3 linked regions of the Homo sapiens genome follow. The protein of the gene in region 3 purifies or fractionates together with the protein of the main gene of each other region. This does not show direct contact. Each region holds a gene or a part of one and is shown on either strand. Other genes may lie near its edges.

What was found. The genes of interacting proteins can lie anywhere in the genome.
Region 1: the proteins of WWC1 (region 3) and PATJ purify together in Homo sapiens (affinity purification with mass spectrometry; 2 studies listed by BioGRID and IntAct, with this or other methods). This does not show direct contact.
Region 2: the proteins of WWC1 (region 3) and AMOTL1 purify together in Homo sapiens (affinity purification with mass spectrometry; 2 studies listed by BioGRID and IntAct, with this or other methods). This does not show direct contact.

What each region holds. Positions count from the first base shown.
Region 1 is NC_000001.11:61,759,019-61,766,906, reverse strand, and holds part of PATJ (inaD-like protein), read right to left. Parts: intron 4,050-7,888; 5' UTR 4,015-4,049; coding exon 3,993-4,014; intron 3,895-3,992; coding exon 3,728-3,894; intron 629-3,727; coding exon 434-628; intron 1-433.
Region 2 is NC_000011.10:94,868,895-94,876,782, reverse strand, and holds the end of AMOTL1 (angiomotin-like protein 1), read right to left. Parts: intron 7,586-7,888; coding exon 7,310-7,585; intron 6,095-7,309; coding exon 5,988-6,094; 3' UTR 35-5,987; downstream 1-34. UniProt on the Homo sapiens protein: Inhibits the Wnt/beta-catenin signaling pathway, probably by recruiting CTNNB1 to recycling endosomes and hence preventing its translocation to the nucleus.
Region 3 is NC_000005.10:168,427,344-168,435,231, forward strand, and holds part of WWC1 (protein KIBRA), read left to right. Parts: intron 1-689; coding exon 690-798; intron 799-1,363; coding exon 1,364-1,444; intron 1,445-2,793; coding exon 2,794-2,880; intron 2,881-3,908; coding exon 3,909-4,101; intron 4,102-7,888. UniProt on the Homo sapiens protein: Regulator of the Hippo signaling pathway, also known as the Salvador-Warts-Hippo (SWH) pathway.

The DNA.
Region 1 (7,888 bases), on a different chromosome or scaffold from region 3:
TGGTCGGGCTAGTCTCAAACTCCTGACCTCTAGTGATCCACCCTCCTCGGCCTCAGAAAGTGATGCAATTACAGGTGTGAACCACTGCGCTTGGCCAAAAATCTTATTTTAACAAGAATAGAGATGTGTTCAATTAGTCATTGTCTAAAAACTCTCCTTAGCAAGACCTTATCTCAAAAAATAAATGTTAATTTTTTTTTAAAAAGCTCTCCTTACCACATACATGGATACTTTCCTTATGTAATTTTAAGTCAATAAATTTTCAACACACAGGTTAGAAAATGGTGTCAGTTTCTCCTAACAATATAAAAATAGAAGCAAGCAAAATACATACTAATACATTTTACAGCAAAAAGAATGAGTATAAGCTCCTTTGTAAAACTAAAACAGGAGAAATGAAGCTAAATATTTCCATGAGAAGATACAACTTTACCTGAGCCATCTGTTGAATGACTGAGTTAAAGTCTTCATTTCCCAACTTCGGGGTCCACGGAAATAACCCAGATACAGTCGAGTTATTAGAGGGCCTGTGGACATTTCCATTAGTGATGGAACCATCTGTGAACACTAACAAACCTTTCCTAGAAAAATCAAAGTTGGCTGAACAATCTGAGGGTATATGGTTGAGCTGTTGGAGAGAAAAAAAAAGAATCAACAGAAATCTATAGAAAAATTGTTTCTATTTATTAAATATATTTTGACCATTACATAGATACTTTGCACATTAAATATATACATGGAAAAGAAATAAGGTAAAGATAGATCAAATCTGTGTATTCACAAGGCTAAAAATTTTTTAAATTTAGTATTACACAAAATGTTTAATAGCTTAAAATTTGTTCTTATTTCCTGCCTTCTACCACTAGTCCAAGTTAACAGCATGTACACTGACATCTTTTTACACTTCACATATACAGATGCATCCAGTCACATAACAGTGTAAGGCACTAAACCTTTTTCCATTTATCTGTACAATTCCACGTGGGGAGCAACAAAAGATCCACAGGTAGTATATAATGATAATAACTGTACTTATTGAGTGCTTGCTATGAGTAAGTACTATACCAGCATGATTGCAGGTATTATCATTTAATTCTTACAACAATCTAATGAGATATCATTATCCCATTTTGTGAGCCTAAAAACCGAGGCACACAGGGGTTAAGTAACTTACTCAAGATTAGCAGTGAGTCACGGAGCCACTTAAACATTGATAGAAAGAGGAGAATCATGTAATTATGGTGGACATAATTTAAAATATCATTGGCTGATACAACTGCCAAAACAGTAGAATAAAGGTAACATTAAGAATAAATGTCAGTGGTGAAACCCCATCGCTATCAAAAATACAAAAATTAGCCGGGCATGGTGGTACACACTTGTAATTCCAAGGTACTTGGGAGGCTGAGGCAAGAGAATTGCTTGAATCCCGCAGGTGGAGGCTACAGTGAGCCGAGATTGCACCACTGCACTCAGCCTGGATGACAGAGCAAGACTCTGTCTCCAAAAAAAAAAACAGAATAAATGTTAGGCCGGGTGTGATGGCTCACACCTGTAATCCCAGCACTTTGGGAGATCAAGGTGGGAGGACTGCTTCAGGGCCAGGAGTTCAAGACCAGCCTGGGCAACATAGTGAGACTCTTGTCTCAACAAAAAATACAAAAATTAGCTGGGCATGGTGTCACATGCCTGTAGGCCCAGCTACTTGGGAGGATGAAGTGGGAGGATTGCTTGAGCCCAGGAGGTTGAGGCTACAATGATCCATAATCACACCACTGTACTCTAGCCCAGGCAAATACTCTGCCTCAAAAAAAAAAAAAAAAAAAAAAAAAAAAAAAAATGAATGTCAATAAAACCTCAAAGAAAAAATAAAAAACCCCTGGCTACAGGGATTATACAGTCCAATGCATAAAATATGACTGTGTACATAACAACTCCAAACTATACAAATATAAAGAATTGTTATTAGGATAGGGTAGTTACAGCCACTCTTAGTCCAACAAGTGTGATAGATTTCTGCTGATCTTTGCCAATTTCAGTTGCTACCAACAGCATTCACTATTGTGATATTCTGTGACCAAGAGAAATACAGAAAGCTAAACATCAATATAGGCAGTGCTAAAATTAGGGTATAAATTCTGGTCTAAAGAAAGCAATTCACAGAAAGACACATGTAGAATTTAATCCTTAATTGGCTATAAACAAATCACTCACAAAATACTTAATGGGCAAGCATTTTAGTTTATCAGCAAAAACCATTTTTTCCCAAATTTTGTAAATTTTCACTTAACTGTGCTAAATTAGCTCCAATTATGTTTTAAATTCTGCCCAAATTTCATCTATGGTATAGCTACTATTCAAGTTCAGCTTCCAGAATAGGTGATTTAAAAGTAATTTGCCATCCCTGACCCCAAAACAAAGAATCCAAGAGGACAGTTAAAACAATTAATTTCTGGTTCAATCTCAGCACCAAAAAAAAAAAAAAATCCCACAACTGCTAATTTGCACCCCTCTAAGAAGAGGTGATATGTGTCCCTTATTCAATAATGATGTATTAGAGCCTGAAGAATCCAGATAGTGTGGTAAATGAGTAGAAGAAACATAACTATATATTTAAATACCAGGTATTCTGCTTCCAAGGAACTTCTAATCAGAATACGCATGAAAGACAACAAATATTTGATAATTAAGAGAAGTGTGACTATTGTGCTATAAGGGCATGATCACTTCTTGTTAGATAAAAGACTTCGGCCGGGCGAGGTGGCTCACGCCTATAATCCCAGCACTTTGGGAGGCTGAGGCAGGTGGATCACAAGGTCAGGAGATACAGACCATCCTGGCTAACACAGTGAAACCCCGTCTCTACTAAAAAAAATAATAATAATAACACACACACACAAAAAAAAAGACCACACACACACACAAAAAAAGACTTCATAAGGAAAATACGCCTGGGCAAGGTGGCTCATGCCTATAATCCCAGCACTTTGGAAGGCTGAGGTAGGAGGACTGCTTGAGGCCAATAGTTTGAGACCAGCCTGGGCAACATAGGGAGACCCTGCCTCTATAAAATTTTTAAAAATTAGCCCAACTGTGGTGGCACACACCTATCCCAGCTACTCTGGAAGCTGAGGTGGGAACATTGCTTGAGCCTGGGAGGTCAAGGCTGCAGTGAGCTAGGATCACAGCACTGCACTCCCGCCTCAGTGACAGAGAGAAACCTTGTCTCAAAATAAAAAGAAAATATATTTAAGTTAAGCACTATTTTATAGTTTTGAAGATGTTGAGAATTCTCAAAGCATCTGACCTTTACATACTTAAATAAGTACAAAAACCATATTCTAAAACCAAACACAATTTTTTTTTTTTTTTTTGAGACAGGGTCTCAACTCTGCCATCCAGGCTGGAGTGCAGTGGCATGATCATAGCTCACTGCAACCTGGAACTCCTGGGCTCAAGCAGTCCTCCCACCTCAGACTCCTGAGTTGCTGGGACTACCGGTACATGCCACCACATCCAGTTACCAAAGAAAAAATTGATTATTGATATTTCTAAATTATCTATGCCAATGCTACCCACAGGTTATAGGTTACAGGTCCCAATACAGTCTCTTTGCTGAACTGAGTCCTTAAAGATAATTTGTCTTTGTCTATCTCCTCTATCTTTCTTTGATGGTTTGAATATATTAATATAATATATTAATGTAAAACTCTGATGGGTAACTTACTTGACCCTTCAGTTGCTTGATGGACTGCTGAAGTGTGAGTATCTGGTTGAAGAGAGGACTCTTTAGTGTCTCATAAAACATAGATAACTTCTCATTCTGCGACGTGTCACCCTTCTCCTGCAATTTCATTTTCAGGCGATCAAGTACCTGCAGCACCTGCAGTTTATCTTGGGTCAAGATGAATAAGTAGAGTAATAGTTAAGTCCCATTTGAGATTCCATTTTTAAATAATTAATTTAATTATAGAACAATATATCCAGTATACCTGTAGCAGGATTTTCAGGCATTTTGAATTATTCTCTTCAATCACTCTTAAAGACACCTAAAGAAAAAATTTAACAATATAAAAGATGAATTTCAATTGTATATGGCTACAATCCTGTAGAAAAATTAAGGAAAACCTCAAGAACATTCTTTATCAAGGCTCCACTCAGTGAAATTCAAAATTATAACCACAATGAGGTGCCACTACACACCCACTAAGGTAACTAAAATTTAAAAACAGACAACACTAAGTTTCAACGAGGCTGTGAAGTGCCTGGAACTATTATTGTACATTGCTAAGAGAAACGTAAAATATCACAACCACTTCGGAAAATTGGTAGTTTCTTATAAAGTTAAAAATACACTTACTATATGACCCAGCACTTCCACTCACAAATACTTACTCAGTATTCATGAAAATATATGCTCACAAAAACGCCTGCACATGAAAGTTTACAGCATTTTTATTTACAAAAACCCCAAAACTAGAAAAACCCAAGTGTCTAGTAACAGATGAATAAACAAATGGTATATAATATTCAGAAATAAAAAGGAAAAATTACTGATACACACAACAAGGATAAATCTCAAAAATGATATGTGGAAAAAAAGAAACCTGACCCAAAAAAGGCACAAACCATACTGTATGATTACATTCATATGAAGTTCAAGTACTGACAAAACTAATCTACAATTATAGATTAATTTACCTGGGGCAGGGTCATAGGGAACTGACTATGACAGGCTTCAGAACATGCTACTCCCAAAATATGACACCTTGGCATTGTTGAATATTTTAAGTTGAAGGAATCTGAGAAACAGCAGGTGCAAAAAAGACTTCCCCTGAAGCAGATCATAGGATCCTCATGTGAGAGGTGTCCTCTCTATACCCAGAAGATAGCAGCATCTTAATCTCAAAAGACAGAGTGGCCGGGCGCATTGACTCATGCCTATAATCCCAGCACTTTGGGAGGCCGAGGCAGGAGGATCACTTCTGCCCCAGAGTTTGAGGCCAGCCTGGGCAACACAGTGAGATTCCATCTCTACAAAAAAAATTCAAAAATCAGCCACCCATGGTGGCACATACCCATAGTCCCAGCTGCTCAGGAGGCTGAGGCAGGAGGATCACTTGAGCCCAAGAGGTTGAGGCTGCAGTGAGCTATGATCATGCCACTGCACTCCAGCCTGGGGAACAGAGTGAGACCCTGTCTCAAAAATTAAAAAAAAAAAAAATAGAGGAACACCCAGAGGAATATGAACAAACAGGCCTTGTTAAGTTTTTCCCTGTTTACTACTCTTGGCTCATATCCCTTTCTGTCCTATCACATTCCACAACTCTTCCTTCTTCATCAAACCTAATTTAAAAACACTCAGGTTTTACTGTTTCTTCGGGTCTTCCTTTCCTTATGAAGGCTCCCATGTCACATAAAACTTATATTAAACAAGTTTACATGTTTTTCTCTTGTTAATCTACCCTTTATTACAGGGGCCCCAACCGAAAACTTAGAAGGGTAGAGGCTATTTTCCCTCCCCTACACTGGGAAGGGGTTCAAGGAAGCTTTTTTGGAGTGATGGACACATTGTGTCTTGAAGGGGGTATGGTTTACACAGATGTATATACTTATCAAAATTTATTGAACCAGGCCAGGAGCAGTGGCTCACTGTGATCCCAGTACTTTAGGAGGCCAAGGCAGAAGGATCACTTGAATCCAGGAGTTTGAGACCAGCCTGTGCAACAAAGTGAAACCTCATCTCTACAAAAACAAAAAAATTAGCTGGTGTGGTGGCTTGTACCTGTAATCCCAGCTACACTGGAGACTGAGGTGAGAGGATCGCTTGAGCCCAGGAGGTTGAGGTTACAGTGAGCCATGATCATGCCACTGCACTCCAGCCTGGGTGACAAAGGGAGACCCCATCTCAACAAAAAATAAAAGAAAAATTCCCAAGCTGTACAAATGATCTCAGACTCTTACTAGTCATCTACAGCTTGAAAGAAACCACCCAGGCTGGGCGCCACGGCTCACACCTGTAATCCCACACTTGGAGAGATCGAGGTGGGTGGATCACCTGAGGTCAGGAATTCGAGACCAGCCTGGCCAACACAGAGAAACCCCGTCTCTAATAAAAATACAAAAATTAGGCGTGGTGGCACTCACCCATAATTCCAGCTACTCGGGAGGCTGAGGCAGGAGAATTGCTTGAACCTGGGAGGTGGAGGTTGCAGTGAGCTGAGCTCATGCCACTGCACTCCAGCCTAGGCAATAAAGCCAGACTCTGTCTCAAAAAAAAAAAAAAAGAAAAAGAAAAAGAAAAGAAAAAAGAAACCACTCAAAGTGGCATTCTCTATGGATAATGTTTTCTTAATTCCAGTGATTTGATGAAATTAATCTAAAATGTAACGTAATTAAAAACTCAAAAGGCTAGCAAAACCCTTTGCTATGACCAAAATGAGACATTTTCAGTGATCATTTTTACTAGTGATACACACTTGTAATGAACCATCAAAGAAATACAAGTATTATACAATCAAAATTTTCTTACATCAACCTGGATATGGTGGCTGAATGACATCTTTATCTTCTAATTCAAGATCATTAAGCAAAAAAACATATTGAAAACCAATAACGGATGCCATTGACATTGATAAAAGGTCTAAGTATTCCATCCAAATGTTCACTGGATTCAATGGGAATACCAAAAGAAGTGCTGAATAGAGCATCAAAAAAACACTTCTGATGTGCTCAGCATCTCAACTGTACAACTCTTACAACTACCCAGTGACAGGTAACTGTGAATAACAAAAGGGCAGTCATGACAGCACTGTACTCTCATATAGCAGCATACAGCCCAACAGGATTGACAAGAGCGGCCTGCTGGTCATTAACACATCAACCTCTCTAAATCGAAGAATGCAAACTAAAACAATAAGATGACATTTTTTTACTGCCAAATCTCAACTGACATTTATTGATTTATTAGAGATTAATAATAGTTTATACTCCAAATGTCATGAAAAAATAGGTGGAAATAAAAATTTACACAATGTATACTGACACTGCTAAGTTGTCCTAAGAGTGTACAATTTTTACTTCTGAGTGTCACTCTGAAAGAAAAACTGGCAAAGGGGGACAAAGATGTGTGTGCAAGGGTATTTACCACATTTTTAATAGCAAAACTCCTGGAAAAAGTAAATTATCAAAAGCGATCAGCCCGGGCGCTGTGGCTCACGCCAGTAATCCCACCACTTTGGGAGGCCAAGGTAGGCGGATCACTTGAGGTCAGGAGCTCGAGACCAGCCTGAACAACATGGTGAAACCTTGTGTACTAAAAACACAAAAATTTGCTGGGCGTGGTGGCAGACGCCTATAATCCCAGCTACTTGGGAGGCTGAGGCAAGAGAATCACTTGAACGCAGGAGGTGGAGGTTTCAGTGAGCCGGGATCGTGCCACTGCACTCCAGCCTGGGTGACAAAGCAAGACTTTGTCTCAAAAAAAAAAAAAAAAAGCAATTAAAATGATGAAATAGGTCTGAATGTACTGAAAAGGGGATGAGGGGGAAAGGGTTAACAGCAAGCCTGTGGCTCACTCCTTCAGCCACAGGGGTGTCCAATCTTTTGGCTTCCCTGGGCCACATTGGAAGAGGAGGATTGTTTGGGCCACACATAAAATACACTAACACTAATGATAGCTGATGAGCTTTAAAAAAAATTGCAAAAAAATCTCATCATGTTTTAAGAAAGTTTATGAATTTGTGTCAGGCTGCATTCAAAGCCGTCCTGGGTTGGACAAGCTTGGGGGATTCCCTGCATGACAGCTGACTTCCTAGCAAACATGATAAAGGTTTGTAATAGATAAGAAATGGTCTCTTATTTTAAAATATCAGGATATATCTGGTCT
Region 2 (7,888 bases), on a different chromosome or scaffold from region 3:
GCCGAGGGCCTCTGAAGCAAAACATTAAGTGGGGTACAATGAAATGAAACATTTATTGAGCATCAGTTTATAAGTTCTTTAAGGAAGAAAGGAGCAAGCGAGAGAAAAGAGTCATTTTGCCATTTTATCCATTTATTATGTACAATATTAAGGCACAAGTTTAAGCAGCAAAGGAGAGGAAAATCTTTGGCTGACCAACAGCATCAATATTTGCTGTGGGGGACAGGCAGTGTTCTTGGAATCCCCACACTGGTACACAGACCCATTTGGCTGTATGGCCATGTACATCACCCCTCAATACAGACTGGCAATATGAAGACGTCAAACGTTACAGCCAGATACCAGTCTGCTGGGAAGAGCCGGCACGAGCACGGCACACTGCCACCAAGCACAGCGACACACACACACAGAGCAGGTTGGAGGGCAGCGGCAGCAGGACAGCTGAAATCGGGTGCCCATGCTTACCACTGTTTCACAGAATTTTACACAATTCTGTAAGTGCTCATGGAGGAGGAGGCTCCCTGTTCCTCCTCAAAAGGAAAAAAAACAAAAAACAAAAAAACACCTTGATTCAAATAAAACCAATGTGGATATATTTGCTTACATTCCGTTTTGTAATAAATACTTACAGGTGTCTCTATGTGAACAGACTCCTAGGCACAATCACATGTAAACACAACACCGGGCATCCAGACTTTGGGGGCTGATACAAGAAAACGCTGTATATGTAGTTCAATATAGAGAGAGCAGTATTCTAATTCTGTGAAGAAGCAAAGTTTCATGACAAAGAAACACCCCAGTCACATCATAACATGACAATAACATGCACTAAAGTAAACACAGTTTTACAGAATACCTACCAGATGTTTATATGAATGATTATGCACTTATATCTGTAGTGTATGCAGAGATGTGAACACATAGGAGGCATGGCAAGAGAATTGATTTTTAAAAATCTGTGTGCTAATGAGGATGATCCCCCCTTGAAGTGGACACTTTGAGAGGCTCTGAGGCCAAAGACTCATTCCAAGAAATTTCTTAGGGATTTTTTTAGAAACAAAAATGGTGTAACTTACCTTAATTGCCATCTTTTTTCATCCAACTGTGCTATCAAGCACTTGAGATTATTTCCAGAACTTAAATCCATCCTCAAAGGAGGAGGATTTCTCATCTCTAAGGGTAAACCAAAGGAACATGCCAAGCCCTGAAGGCCATTCTAGTAGAAGAGTTCCCAAGATATTTTTACTTGGCAGCACTATAGTCAATGAGCACATAGTCTCCCAAAAGACACCTTTTAAGGAGGGCGGGGTGAGATGAACACTTTGATCTTCTGTATGTTAGGAAAAGAAATTCCCACAAACAACCCTATAGTCATACCTCATATGTATGCACTCACTTATACACATGTCTTTATATACCATTAAATTACTAAGTGAGAAAAGGGTATACTACTTAAGAGAAAGAGGAAAAATTGCTCATTTGTTCCAGGAGAAATTCACTACTGAAATGCTAACTTTTGCATTTCCCCAGCCGACCAATTTCTGGTAACTTCTTAATTACTTTGCCTATCTCCCATGGAGCCACACGTCAGAGGCAAACTCATTAAACAATCGTCACATCTAATGAAGACATTTTAAACACTTTAATTACTTAAACAACAAGAAAAGAAACATTTATAAAGCATATACCAAGGCTGTCTCAGGTTTTAGGATGTGGAGAAGCCAATGGTAGGCTGGATACTCTCTGGCTACTTAAAGCCTTACCCATTTAAGAACATTTGTGGGATCCCACTGACTATGGTCATGGTACTCCTTTGCTTAAGAGGAGTGCAAGATCATTCAGAGAACACAGAGAAGCATGCTCCACTTACTCCAGCGTGGACACTGGTTTTGAACCCTGGTTTTGAAAAACACATCTCTTTGCTCAGCATAACTCCCTGCAGTCAAAACATGAGCCCCCTGCCTCAAAAGCTTTTAATGCCCCAATCTATTATCCACTGCTTCTGAGGTCCGCAGCCTCACCTGAAGTCTGTGTCCCTAAGTCTCTGGGACTCAGGTCAATGGGGAGGAAGAATTTCCCATTCTCTCAGCACCTGGCATGAAGGTGCTACAGCCACTGCATCATGAGGGTGCGCACCCAGGTGAGAACAAACAAGAGTAATGACTGGCTGCTCTGCACGGGGCATTCTGAACACCTCCTTCCTGAGTAACAGAAGCACTGAATTCTCTGTTCCAGGTTCAGAACTAATTTGTTGCAACTGTTTTGGTATCCATGCCAAGCCTTGTGGAGTCAAACTCATACATGAGTTCCAAAGAGCAACCCCAGAGGACTGCACCCAGAAGGGCTCCACCACTGCCTGCTCTCCCAACGAAAGCCTGAGGAGGGCCAAGGCAGCCCCTGCCCTGCGTGCATGGTTAGAACATGCTGAACTCTGCAGTGTCACTGGCTGCCAGCCTCTGGGAGGCAGAGAAAATGCTGAGAAGAAAACGCTAAGAAAGGGTTCTGCACATGCTCTGAAAGTTTTGGAAGATAATGTGTTTTTCCTGGCAGCTTAGCTATATGGACCTGCAGACAGTAATAGTTCTCATGTACAGAGGCATCTAATTAGTGAAACTCTAGCTTCAGAGACCTGACTCCAACTTCTCCAGTTCCATATAATATCCTGGCAGCACACAGAAACTGCCAGACAACGCAGTCAAGGGTGAAGCAGAACAATGCTGGAATACCTTCCCGTGAAGCCAGGGCCTCTCCCCTTCATCCTGAGATAGGACCCTCAAGTTCTATAATCAGGCTCCACTGGGAAAGTTTGAAGTCCAGGTCTCTGGGAAGTGCAGAAATATTTTTTAGGTATAGTTTGGAGCTGTGCTTCTGGTGGAACACAATAATTTCCATCTATGCCTAGCATTTATAGGTGATTCTAGGAGTTCTGGGCTTAGTCCTATTTCTTAGGCTCTGAGATGTGTGATAGCTGTGTGTGTGTGTGTGTGTGTGTGTGTGTGTGTGTGTAGTTACACGTGCACACACACATCACAGACAGGCATAGAGACTGCCAAGATGCAGTGCCGCATGTTAGAGGCTGTACAGCCAGGGTCTATGCCCAGTGCCTCTCCAAACTTTGTTTTAAATCATCCTAGCTTCTCCTGGCTGTGAGATTTCAGGAAGGGACTTAACCTTTCTGAGCCCATTTCCTCATCAGTGAAATCAGAATAATAAACGCACCCCCTGTACTCCAGGTGGGTGGAGGACTAATTAAAAGGTATTTACCACACTGTTTGCATACAGTTGACACTAGAAAATATAGTTGCATTATTTTTCTGAAAATCTGTTTAAGATATTGTAAGCTGCCCAGAACTCAGAGCAGGTACTCAGTATATGGCCGGACTTCAGGAAAGCTCTAATGATGAAAGAATTTAGTGCCCTGGCTTGGCAGGAAATTTCCCATAGAAGAAGACATTTTAAAGCTATAGATCCTGTTCTTAAGGAAGAGTCTCAGTAGGTTAAGAGAAAAAAAATACGGTCAAAGTCCAAAATACAATGCCGTTGAAGCCCTGAAACATGGCGATGTGTCTGTTTACAATGAAAACACTTGGCAGCTCAGGGGGACCTCGAAGAGCAAGCAAGTCTGACACCTGATTGGGGCAATCAGGTGTCTGGGGCATGAAGACGAGGCTTCGGGAGAAACAGCTGGGTCTCTCACTCTAACCTATGTCTAAGGGAGGCAGCCCAAGTTTGGGGTGGCCCAGACCTGATGGTAGGGGCTGGCAGAGTTGATTTACCTTCCTATCTCTAGACATTTTCCTTTCTGGTCCATCCCCAACATAAACTGGGGTCAAAATGTCCTTAAGAGAGTTAGCTGTCATCTCCTAACTCATCTCCTATGAAATGTGGTGGGAACAGAGATTAGGAAGGGATGTCTATGCCCTCTCCCCACCCATGTCCATCCTCAACCCTTTCCCCCATGGATGAGGCCTCCTGTGCCCTCTTCCCACACCCTATGGCATGGGGTGAGCTCCATGCTCAGCCTCTCAGAGCTCCTCAGTTTTCCTGTCTGCACAACAGGTACTCCGATGCTCAGTGTGAGACTAGAGGAGGTGATGAGCAGGTGGCACAATGTGCAGTGCCTATGGCCAAGCAGAGCCCCAGAGGGCCAGTTCCCACTCCTCTGTCGTACTGGGTGGCACAGAGGCTGGCCAAAGCCACTGATTTCTTCCCTTCCCTCTCCAGCTTACACCTCTTGTCTTCCTTCTGTCACCTCAATTTGGGGAGGCTATAACTTCACCGGGGTTACACACCCAAGACCAGTCCATTTTAGGATCCAAGCAAAGTTTCCTGAGTAGCACTCTCTTGAGTGTTTCATTTAGAAGGTACTTGGAAGAGGTACCCCCCTTTCTTTCTTCCTCTAAGTAAGCATGAGCAAAGGGAACTGGGAAAACAGCGATCCAGCTGACCTGGAGGTACAAAAACATCAGGACCCTGTAGGAGCATCTCTCTGATGGCCCGATGAGCTTCTCCTCTTTTCTAATCCAGCATCTCTTAGATTTGTAAAGGAAGCCAGTGTCTGCAGAGCTGAATATGCAATGTCACAGCAGAGGTCTAATGGACCCACCACCTAACACACTCCTGCCTCTTTTCCGTGGCACTTCTGTCTCACTTTGAATAAACTGCCTCAAAACTGAAACCCGGAAAAACCTGACAACACTGTATATACAACTGGCCTGGTAGGTTACAAAAGAAGTTCACAACAGAGGCAACCTGGTGCCACGGAGGTCTGGATGCTGATCGAGAGCAAGCAGAGGCGTGCGCGGGGGAGGAAAGAGTGTGAATACGCTCATGAGCCTCAATACAAGAAGCTATACGGGAGGCTGGTGAGATTCTGGAAACCACTGAGACAACTGTCTGTAAATTGTCATCTGTTTCCTGGAGTGCTGTCCTAAGTCTTCCCCAAACAGAGCAATGGAATTTGGAAATGTCAAGCTCCTTGCAAGACAGCCGATGTGAAAGACAAAAAAGCAAGTGCCACGATCTTAATGCAATATGTCACAGGGACCCACGGAATCTCCTGCCTCCTCAAAGCTTGCTTAGTTCACAGTCAGAATGAGGTTCGCAGCTGCAACCCAGCTATGCAAAGGTGAAGCAGCCAGGAAGTCGGCACGTGGCTTTGTCCTACTGGTCACTATCAAACACAGTAGGAATGATGACAGTTCAGGTACTGGTCTCATAAATCCCATACCTAAGGAATTCTGCTATGTCTTATTAAAAAGAAAAAAATGAAGGAACAACAAAAAATTAAAGACTGTAAAGCAGAGACAGAGATGAACTCAGAAGTTAGGATGGATGGGGACCGAGATCATAATCTATCCTGTTTAGAAAATACTGCAGAATTCAGAAAAGCTAAGAAGCCCAATCATCTCTTGAAAATCCAAACCAAACAGGTAATTAGGTGAAGACCAACTTTCATATTCCCCTCGCCCTCGATGCTTCTTCTCACTGCCACACTCACACTCACGGGACACCCCATGGTTGGCACAGGTGACACTGCATTATGCCAAGACAGGCTCTCAAGATTTCCTGGAGGCTTTTCTTAAATCAAACATGCTAAGAGGCAAGGAGAATGGGGGTATTCCAAGGATGATCCACATTTGGGTTTATCTGTTTATAATCAGAGAATGGGGGTACACAGGCCCTCCCCAAGAGATACATTTTCTGTACAATGAAAAATTCAGTTTCCTATTTCTTAACTTTGTTTGCAAACCTACACGCCTCTTCTCTCTTCCACCATGTGTAATAAAATCCATCGCATTCTCTTCTATCTTCAGTCATGTAGTTTTTGTGTTTAACATTTATAAAATGTGTTCTTATGAGTCTGAAATCTTTATCAGTTCAAATCATTCCTGATTTCCCATCTACAACCTTCTAGGTCTTTCTTCTTTCTCTGCCGCTTTCCTTGTTTGTCAGTGTTCTGTACTGAAATTCCACAGGGATGGCAGTTAGATGAGGACTTCCATCATCTCTCCATCAGGGAACTCGGGCTTGTGCAGCAAGCTGCTGACCCGGCCTCTGTGGTCAGGCGACTTCCCATGGCCAGGAGAGTTCTCTGCCAAATAGAGGGGAAACATCAGCTGCCCATTCCTCAGGAGGGGCATAGGCTTTCCAGGTTCTCTAAAATGGACCCACGTCCGATACCACTGCACACCCAGGATTCTCACCACAGGGCATGTGAGATGATCCAGCCCACAGTGGGAACATGCAGAATGACTGGGCCAGGATTCAGACACAAATACAAACCAGGATGGTGAAGGGAGAGGATTCAGAAGGTGAGGATGACAGTGGGACTCTGTACAGGAGCCCCTCACACCCTCTACTCAAAACTATCAGGTGCATATTCTGAGCTAGGCACTTTTGACAGGTTCTCTGGCTTACTTGGAAAAGAATCACATCTTTAAAAAGTGACAACATTGTATTTACTTGTCTACTTTGAAAAATGAAATAAACAACCCCCTTGGAGGAAACAGTTAACTTAGGGCCCACAGAGCCTGCACCTCCTCAAAAGAATTCCTGAAAAGGGAGGTCCCCATGACCATGATTAGTCTCAGGTTTTAGGATGTGGAGAAGCCAATGGTAGGCTGGGTACTCTCTGGCTACTTAAAGCCTTACCCATTTAAGAACATTTGTGGGATCCCACTGACCATGGCCATGGTACTCCTTTGCTTAAGAGGAGTGCCTTAAGAGGCCAGGTCTATTCTTACCCAGGACACTTAGGGACTCACTGCAAAGATCACCTCTCCCAAGTTGTCTTCCCGTAAATATTTTAAACAGCTCGTTAGTCCTGGCCCAAGTGCTGTGCCACACGTTAACCGACTCTGCAGGTCAATCTACCTTCTCCTTCCATCACAATGTCCTCCACTGAGGCCAGAATCCCTGGTAAGTTAGAGCCCTGAAGGCAACAGTGAACTTGTGCCTTTGATGTACCTGGTGCCTAATTCTGGCTCCCAAACATACCAGAGGGCATTCAGCCCCTTAGAGGGTCTGTTGTCACTCCATCCGGGGAAAGGTTAGTTAAAAAGTATGCATTGCCAGGGTAGTCTCAAGCCGTGCACTCATTTCAAATAGTAATAAACTAGATGTGTCTATATGCATATTTATTCCCGTAATAAGAAAGGGCACACATATCCTAAGTGCATTAGAATAGCATCCCCATAGAGTAAGAGCTGATGGGTGCCCCTGCTTCCTCTCTAGCTCAACAAAAGATTCTCTTAGGCCAGACAGTTCCACAGTTTTCAGGGGCATCAAGGTGGGGTAGCCCACATACCCAGTTTCTCTGCGGTCCCTTTGGCCGCTGGGTGTTTCAGGACGGGGCTGTGAGCAGGGGTCGTGCTCAGCCGGCCGCGGCTGGGAAGGGAGGCCATGCTGGGCCAGAAGAGCTCGGCACTCTTGTCAGTCTGTGTGCTGCTGTCCTTGCTGCCTGTCTTGGCGTGGGCACTGCTGGCTGCCGTAGTGGAGGCTATGGAGGACAGTGCTGAGGTGGGTGGGGGTGGCAGCAGTGGGGCAGAGGCATGCTCATGGTGCTCCTTCCCCAGCAGCAATCCTGAGGGCAGAGAACAGATTTTTCAACATTCTTTTTTTCCTTTTTTTTTTTTTAAATCTAGTCTTGCAGATCTGTTCCTTGTTGATTGATGATTGCTTCATTCATTCATTGATTCATTCCCCAAGCATTTAATAAACACTTATTACAAGGCTGATAAAATAACAAACACTGAGAGAATAAAAAATGGAAGACCTAGTCCCCTTCCTAAAAAATTGTAGGTTTTTTTTGTGTGTTTTTTTTGTTTTTTTTTTTTGGAGTGGAGAAGTAGTTGTCAAGTAAACTGATTATAACTTAATATATAAA
Region 3 (7,888 bases):
CAGCCCTATAAGTAGGTATTATTATCCAAGTTTTACAAATGAGGCATCTGAGGCTTAACAGGATTAAGTCAGTATCTCAAGGTCATGAAGCAGTGAGTGGTGGAGCCGGATTTGAATCCAGGCAGTTCGACTCAAGAGCCTGGGATGGTAAAACACAAAATCACATGTGACTCCTTCCATCACCCTAAAGCAAACTTTTTTTTAATTTTTTTTTTTTTTTTTTTTTTTTGCTTTAGCATTTAGAGGTGGTTGGAATTTGGTGGAACCGTCTGTCTTCCATAGAGAGTGTATCAAAATTGGGAGTTCAGGCTCCCCGAATCCCAAAGTGTTGGGATTACAGTCGCTGACGCCTGTAATCCCAACACTTTGGAAGGCCAAAGCAGGCAGATCGCCTAAGACCAGGAGTTCAAGACCAGCCTGGGCAATATGGCAAAACCCCATCTCTACAACAAAATAATAATTCAAAAATTAGCTGGGTATGGTGGCACATGCCTGTAGTTCCAGTATTTGGGAGGCGGAGGTGGGAGGATCACCAGAACCCGAAGTGGTCGAGGCTGCAGTGAGCCATGATTGTGCCACTGCACTCCAGCCTGGATGAGTGAGACCCTGCCTCAAAAACAAAACAAAATTGGGAGTCGCAAAGGCAGTTTCCTGGTTCCTGAACCTGCCTTTCCATTTTCCTTCCCTAGCTGTGAATACGGCCCAGGGGTGTGGCCTGAAAGTGGCCTGTGTCTCAGCCGCCGTATCGGACGAGTCAGTGGCTGGAGACAGTGGTGTGTACGAGGCTTCCGTGCAGAGGTAGGTGTCTGGGTGCTGGCTCTCTCTGTGGCCCTGTAAGCCATGAACTCTGAATATCCAGAGCCTAGGCCTGTGGAGAGGCTTAGGTTTTGGCCCCCACAGTGTGTGGGAGGAGCCCCAAGAGGGCATGACCCCACCTTCCTCTTGGCTGCCCAAGGCACAGACAGCATAACTTTTCCTGGGGTTAGAGATGCTTCAGGTTTGGGGGAGTGCTAGTTCTGTGGTAGCTACGAAAAAGGTATATGGCTAAGGAGCAAGCACTAGAGAAAGGGAAGGCCCCTTAAGAGAGGAGTCCAAGCTGGGCATAGTGGTGTGAGTCTGTAATCCCAGCTACTTGGGAGGCTTCAGTGGGAGGATCACTTGATACAAGGAGTTCGAGACCAGCCTGGGCAACATAGTGAGCCCCCATCTCTAAAAAAAATTTTTTTTAATTAAAATTTAAAAAAGGACCTGAAGGGAAGCTGAGCAAACCCCAACTTTCCTTCCTGGGGATGTAACCTCAGCCTCCCAGAATAGTTTGTTCACTGTAGGGAAGCCTAACTCCTCCTCCCCTGTTGCCTTTCAGACTGGGTGCTTCAGAAGCTGCTGCATTTGACAGTGACGAATCGGAAGCAGTGGGTGCGACCCGAATTCAGATTGCCCTGAAGTAAGTGACGAGGACGAGGAGGACAGAAGGAACGGTCTGTGTGGGGTCCCTTCTTCATCCACAGCGTTCCCCAGCATTTACCTTCACAGCCGCCCAGGGTGGAAGGCAGCACCAGCAGGACCTGCTGGCCATTGCAGCTTCTTAACTGAAGGGATGCTGATTCGTTCCTCACCTCCCAGCCATCCGCTTTACAGATAGGAGAAATGAGGTTGGAGAAATGGGGTTTTAAAAGACCTTATGACTTGGCCCAACTCACTGAGCTGGCTGGTAGCAGAGCCAGGACTGGGACTGAGACCTCCTGCCTCTCAGTGTGTTTGTTCATTGTTGCTGTGGCTTTTGTCTTTCCATCCCATCTAGGTTTCATTGATCTGGATGGAAGTTGATCACTGGGGGCTGCAGCCCAGATTGGGTCAATACACACATGGTTGTTCTTTTTGTTTTCTTTTGTTGGGGGATGATATGATCTCAATTTTTTTTTTTTTTTTTTTTTGAGACAGGGTCTCACCTGTCACCCAGGCTGGAGTGCAGTGGTGTGATCTCAGCTCGCTGCAACCTCTGCCTCCTGGGTTCAAGCGATTCTCCTGCCTCAGCCTCCCAAGTAGCTGGGATTACAGGTGTGTGCCACCACGCCCGGCTAACTTTTGTATTTTTAATAGAGATGGAGTTTCACCATGTTGGCCAGGCTAGTCTCAAACTCCTGACCTCAAATGATCTGCCCGCCTTGGCCTCCCAAAGTGCTGAGATTACAGGCATGAGCCACCACACCTGGCCTTCAATATTTTTTAATAGGAATTAGTTGACAACATTTCCATATCATGAAATTTCACCCGCATTTATGGGTTCTTTTTAAAAATTCAGACAACTGGCTGGGTGTGGTGGCTCACACCTTTAATCCTGACACTTTGGGAGGCTGAGGCAGAGGAATCACTTGATTCCAGGAGTTCAGGACCAGCCCAGGCAACATGATGAAACCCCATCTCTACTAAAAATACACAAAATTAGCTGGGTGTGGTGGTGAACACCTGTAGTCCTAGCTACTTGAGAGGCTGAGGTGGGAGGATCACCTGAGCCTGGGAGGTCGAGGCTACCATGAGCCCCGATCATGCCACTGCACTCAACCTGGATGACAGAGTGAGACCCTGTTTCAAAACAAAAAAAAAATTTTCAAACAATTGGCAGCTCTAGCTCTACATCCCTGCATGGCAGCAAAGCACTGGGCCTGTGCTCTAGAGCTCACCATAGGCCCCAGGGCAGCCAACAGCCACGTCCTGTGACTTTTAATGGAGAGAAGGAATGAGAGAGATGAGTGTGTTACTAATAGGTACTTCATATGCCCCTTTTCATTTCAGGTATGATGAGAAGAATAAGCAATTTGCAATATTAATCATCCAGCTGAGTAACCTTTCTGCTCTGTTGCAGCAACAAGACCAGAAAGTGTGAGTATGTAGCTGGACAGGTGTATTTCATACCCTAACCCTCTGGAGTTACCCCTGGGGGTCACTTTTCTGCCCTGTCCTGATCCAGTTATGGGCCTTGTCAAGGCACTGTGGGTTTGTACTGCATATGACTGTGATGCTGAATGTCGGTGCTGTGCATGTGAATACAGGCACAACGGCAAGCACACCAACTGTAAAGACAAGCACTCTCTAGATGACTGTGTGAATTCCTGCCCCATTACGTGCTGAGCACCTGCTGCATGCCAGCTCTAGGAATGGGGTGGTGAGCAGATCCTTCCTGGGCCCTACCCTCCTGGACTTTGAGCCTCATGGAGAAGAATGGTCACAGTCTGTTTTATCTTCTCCTAAGCTCAAGTGTTTCTTGCAGAGAGAGATAGGTCTTCTGTTTCCAAGAGTCAACACCAGTCACTGCTTCTCTTGGAGGGGTGTGACTGCGTGTTACCTTGATGCTGGTAGGATGCAAACACCTGCTCTGTCTGCCTGTGGGCTCCTCCCATGGTAGATGGGTTTATCCTTTATTGCACTCATCTGCCTCCAAGTTTTCTCTGATCGTAAGGCCTGGAGGGTGGCAACAGAAGCTTATGTGTCTGTGGTCTACACTCAGCCAGCCTGTGAGGGTGGCACATGTGGGAAGAAGAAAGGGCAGGAAGGCGGACAAAACGGAAGGAAGACAAGATGGGATGCTTGGGTCAATTTCAGTCTTCTGCCCACACAGACAGTGCCAGGCTGAATAGCCTCCTCCATAGCTCACTGGTACTCATGCAGGGGCATCTGTGGGATAATGCCTAGAAGTGAAGGGTCTGGACCAAAGGACAAATGCATCTGGAATTTTGTTCGATTTGTCAAAGTTCCTTCCAGTGTATAGGGGCCTGATTCCCCAGATTCCTCACTTCTACAAACTCTCATCCACTGTTGTTTGCTTAGGGATTTCAGCAGCTGTTTAGTCCAACATTTTAGCCCCAGACATGGGCTGACCCAAGATTTCCTGCGGTTCTGTCTCCCTCTAGGAATATCCGCGTGGCTGTCCTTCCTTGCTCTGAAAGCACAACCTGCCTGTTCCGGACCCGGCCTCTGGACGCCTCAGACACTCTAGTGTTCAATGAGGTGTTCTGGGTATCCATGTCCTATCCAGCCCTTCACCAGAAGACCTTAAGAGTCGATGTCTGTACCACCGACAGGAGCCATCTGGAAGAGTGCCTGGTAAGGGCCGTGTCTGGCTGGCTGGCTGGCTGGCTGGCTGGCTGGCTGGCTGGCTGGCTGACCGGCCTTCTGTGTTTATGGGGATTGGTCTACCCTGAGCTTCAGGAAGAAGGTTCGAAGGAGACGCAGGTTGTGCTATCAATCAGGCTCATCTTGGATTCTAGGCAGCGAGGCTTCCACAGGTGAATGTTGTTCTCAGACTTAGGGTGGGAGGGAAGGAGCTCTTTCACAAGAGGAAGAGTAATGGACCTGAAAGTGCCTTTTAAAACTGCCAGAACCTGGAAAAAGCCACATACTGCAGCTTTACTATACAGCATGAGAGATTAGATAAGAAGCACAGACTATGGCTGTGTGGTGGCTTATATCTGTAATCCCAACCCTTTGGGAGGCCAAGGCCAGAGGATCACTCAAGTGCAGGAGTTCGAAAGCAGCCTGGGCAACACAGCAAGACCCCATCTCTACAAAAAATAAAATTAGCCAGGCATAGTGGTGCATGCTTGTAGTCCTAGCTACTCTGGAGGTTGAGATGGGAGGATCCCTTGAGCTGCAATGAGCTGATCATGCCGCAGCATTCTGGCCTGGGCAACAGCAGAACCCTGTGTCAAAAAAAAAAAAAAAAAAAGCACAGAGTAATGAAAGCAAACACATAGGCATTCACATCCCACCTTTACCACTTGCTGTATAGCTGGATGACCTTGGGCAAGGTACTTAACATCTCTGATCCTCATTTTTCTTATCCCTAAAATGCAAATGATAATGCCTCCATCATGCCCACTGGAAGAATCTTTATAAGGATTGAGATAGCACCCGTAAAACACCTATTCAAGTGTCTGATCCACAGTGGGTTCTCGTTTAGTGGGGCCATTGCCAGCCTCCTCCCTGAAACTGACCTTCTCCGGCTTCCATCTCTCACTGCATTGGCAGGAGTCAGGACTGGGGATGAAGTAGCCCAAGTACATTTTGTCCTAAGAGACAGGCAGACCCAAGTGCAGACAGATACTCAGCTTTCCCATCTGTAGAAGGGGGATTTATATAATAGCTAACTCGGGCTTGTGATGTACAAGTGAATTAGAAGAAGTAAAGGGCTTTGTTAACCCTGATGCCATTTAGTGTTAGAATATTTTAATGATAACTCAACTGTGGGCACAAAGGAGCCCAAGTGTGGGCATTATACCTAGAAGGTCGCTCCACTCATGCTCAGATCTGTACTGGGAGCTTGTTGTGTCCCCACCCCTGTGTCTGGGGCTGGGGATTCAATGGGGAACCAAACAGACAAGGTGCCAGCATTGATGGCTAAGATGTAAACAAACTGTGAGGAGGGCCGTGTTGGAAATGGATGGGTTGAAGTGATGGAGGAAAATGTGGGGTATGTGCAAAGGGGAAAAACAAGATGTATACACCTCTCCGAGCCTCTCCTGCCTCCATTTCTGGAAGCTGGAATGTAGAGCCTCTCACTGCCTTCTTGGAGGGCTCGCCCCTTTCTCCTGCTGTAAATCACAGACCTTTGCCCAGAGAAGGGAATCTCTTTGCTCTCCATCCTTGCCTTGATCTGCATGCGCTATAAAACCCTTCTCTATCATGGCATTGTGGGGCCACATCCTTGGATTGTGGCCTGGGGCTGTCACCAGCCTTGCCCTTCCAGCTGTGTCTCCTCACAGTCTTCAATTCTTAGTCTCAGTTCCCTTATCTGTAAAATCTGGCTCATACTGCCTTCCTGGAGGTGGTTCTCTGAAGACTAACTAAGGCGCTGAAGCAGCGCTTCAAACTGTGCCATGCACACAAGTTACCTGGAGCTCTGGCTAAATGCAGATTCTGATTCAGCAAGTCTGGAGCAGAACCTGAGATTCTGCATTTCTAATAAGCTCCCAGGTGAGGCCAATGCTGCTGGTTCCTGGATCACACTTTGGGTAGCAAGAATGTAGAGCAGCAAAGTGTTTGCAGTTTGTGCTCACTGGATATCGGTTCCCATCTCTCCTTCTTAGCTGGGTACAACACAGCATCACTGCTATTGATGTTGTTACTGACAATAATGCAGTAGTTAATACCAGTAGGTTGCAGTTTATATGGCAGGCACTGAGTTAAGCTCTTTACATGCATTATCTGTTTTTTTTATTTTAGACTGAGTCCTGCTCTCAGTCTCTGGAGTGCAGTGGCGTGATCTTGGCTCACTGAAACCTTCACCTCCTAGATTCAAGCAATTCTCCTGCCTTAGACTCCAGAGTAGCTGGGACTACAAGCGCCCACCACCACACCCGGCTAATTTTTGTATTTTTAGTAGAGGCGGGGTTTTGCCATGTTGGCCAGGCTGATCTTGAACTCCTGACCTCAAGTGATCCGCCTGTCTCCACCTCCCAAAGTTCTGGGATTACAGGTGTGAGCCACCACCCCAGCCCATTATCTCTATTGATCCTCACTCCAACCTTGCAAAATAGGTAGCGTATTCCAGTGGAGAAACTGAGGCACAAAGAGGTGAAAGACCTTTCCTGTCACAGTTAGGAAAGTGGCAGAAGCCGTATTTGAACCCCAGCAGGTCTCCCTCTGAAGTCCACACACGTCAGCGCCTCTGTGTTGTCTCTTTGCCAGCACAGGGCTCCCTGGAGCCCAGAGATGGGGGTGGTGACTTGAAGGGGTTGGCAAGCCTGGGCTCCTCCAGCGAAGCATTCCCTTGGCCCTGGGCATTCCTAAGCGAGAAGAGGCTCAATCCTATTTTCTTCTCCTAATTGGATGCCTTTTATTCCTCCTTCCTAATTGAAGTCTGGTCATTGCTGGTTGCCATGGCAGCAGCCAAAGCGCTCATCTCACTGTGGCTTGTCTCTGCCTGCGGCCAATGGGAAACCTCCTTTCCCATATACGGTGGGGACATGGAGTGTCAGGCTGTCGTATTCTGGTGGCTGGAGGAGGAGAGGAAGTGAGATGGGAGGAAAAAGGCCTGTCCTCTCCCACGCAGAGACTCCGGACAGCAGGATGTGTGGAATCCCCAGTCTGTTTTCAGCCAGGCAGCAACAGCATCTGTACTGAGTTGAGTCTATGTGTCTACCAGTGGGCTAAGAACTTCATGTGCAGTATCTCATTTAATCTTCGTGATGGCCCCAGGAAGATAAGGGATCAAGGCCCAGAAAGGCTAAGTAAGCTGCCAGGTCATCCAAGGAGAAAATGGCAAAGCCTGGATTTGAACAGAGACTCCAGCTTCCTTATGTGTAGCCATCTCACCATGCTACTTCTCAGGGGGTTACTATGAGTGTCTCTCATGTCCCCAGACCCAGATTACAGGTTTGGAGGAATACACAGCCCACCTTCCCAATATCGCAGGCAACAGTTCCACCAAATGCCCTGCATGGCATCACAGGGAGCCTAGTTGCCCACTGCTCTACTGCTGAGCTCAATGCCACCCAGCCCGGGCTCTCTCGAGCTAGCCTGCTTCTCAGGCCCCACTGACGTCCCATGGTTCACCATTACAACCGTTCCCTTGCCTCCTCTCACTTTGGCATACTAACTTGGCAAAACCCAGCCCTGTCAAAGTGAACTCTCCACCCCCTCCTCTCCAACTGAGCAACTGGAAAAAAAAATGCACACAACCACGCTGTATGGTATCATTTGGAAATGGTGATCACTCACTTCCCATGAGCCCTCAATGCTGCCCAGAAATTATACTGTATCTCCCTGGACCATTTACTCACCCACTCATCACAATGACTAATTCATACTTCTCTCAGGGAGAGAAGAGAGGACAGACTCAGAAGAGGGCCCCCACACCATATCTGGCTGTTCTTGTAGGTTCTGCCATTTC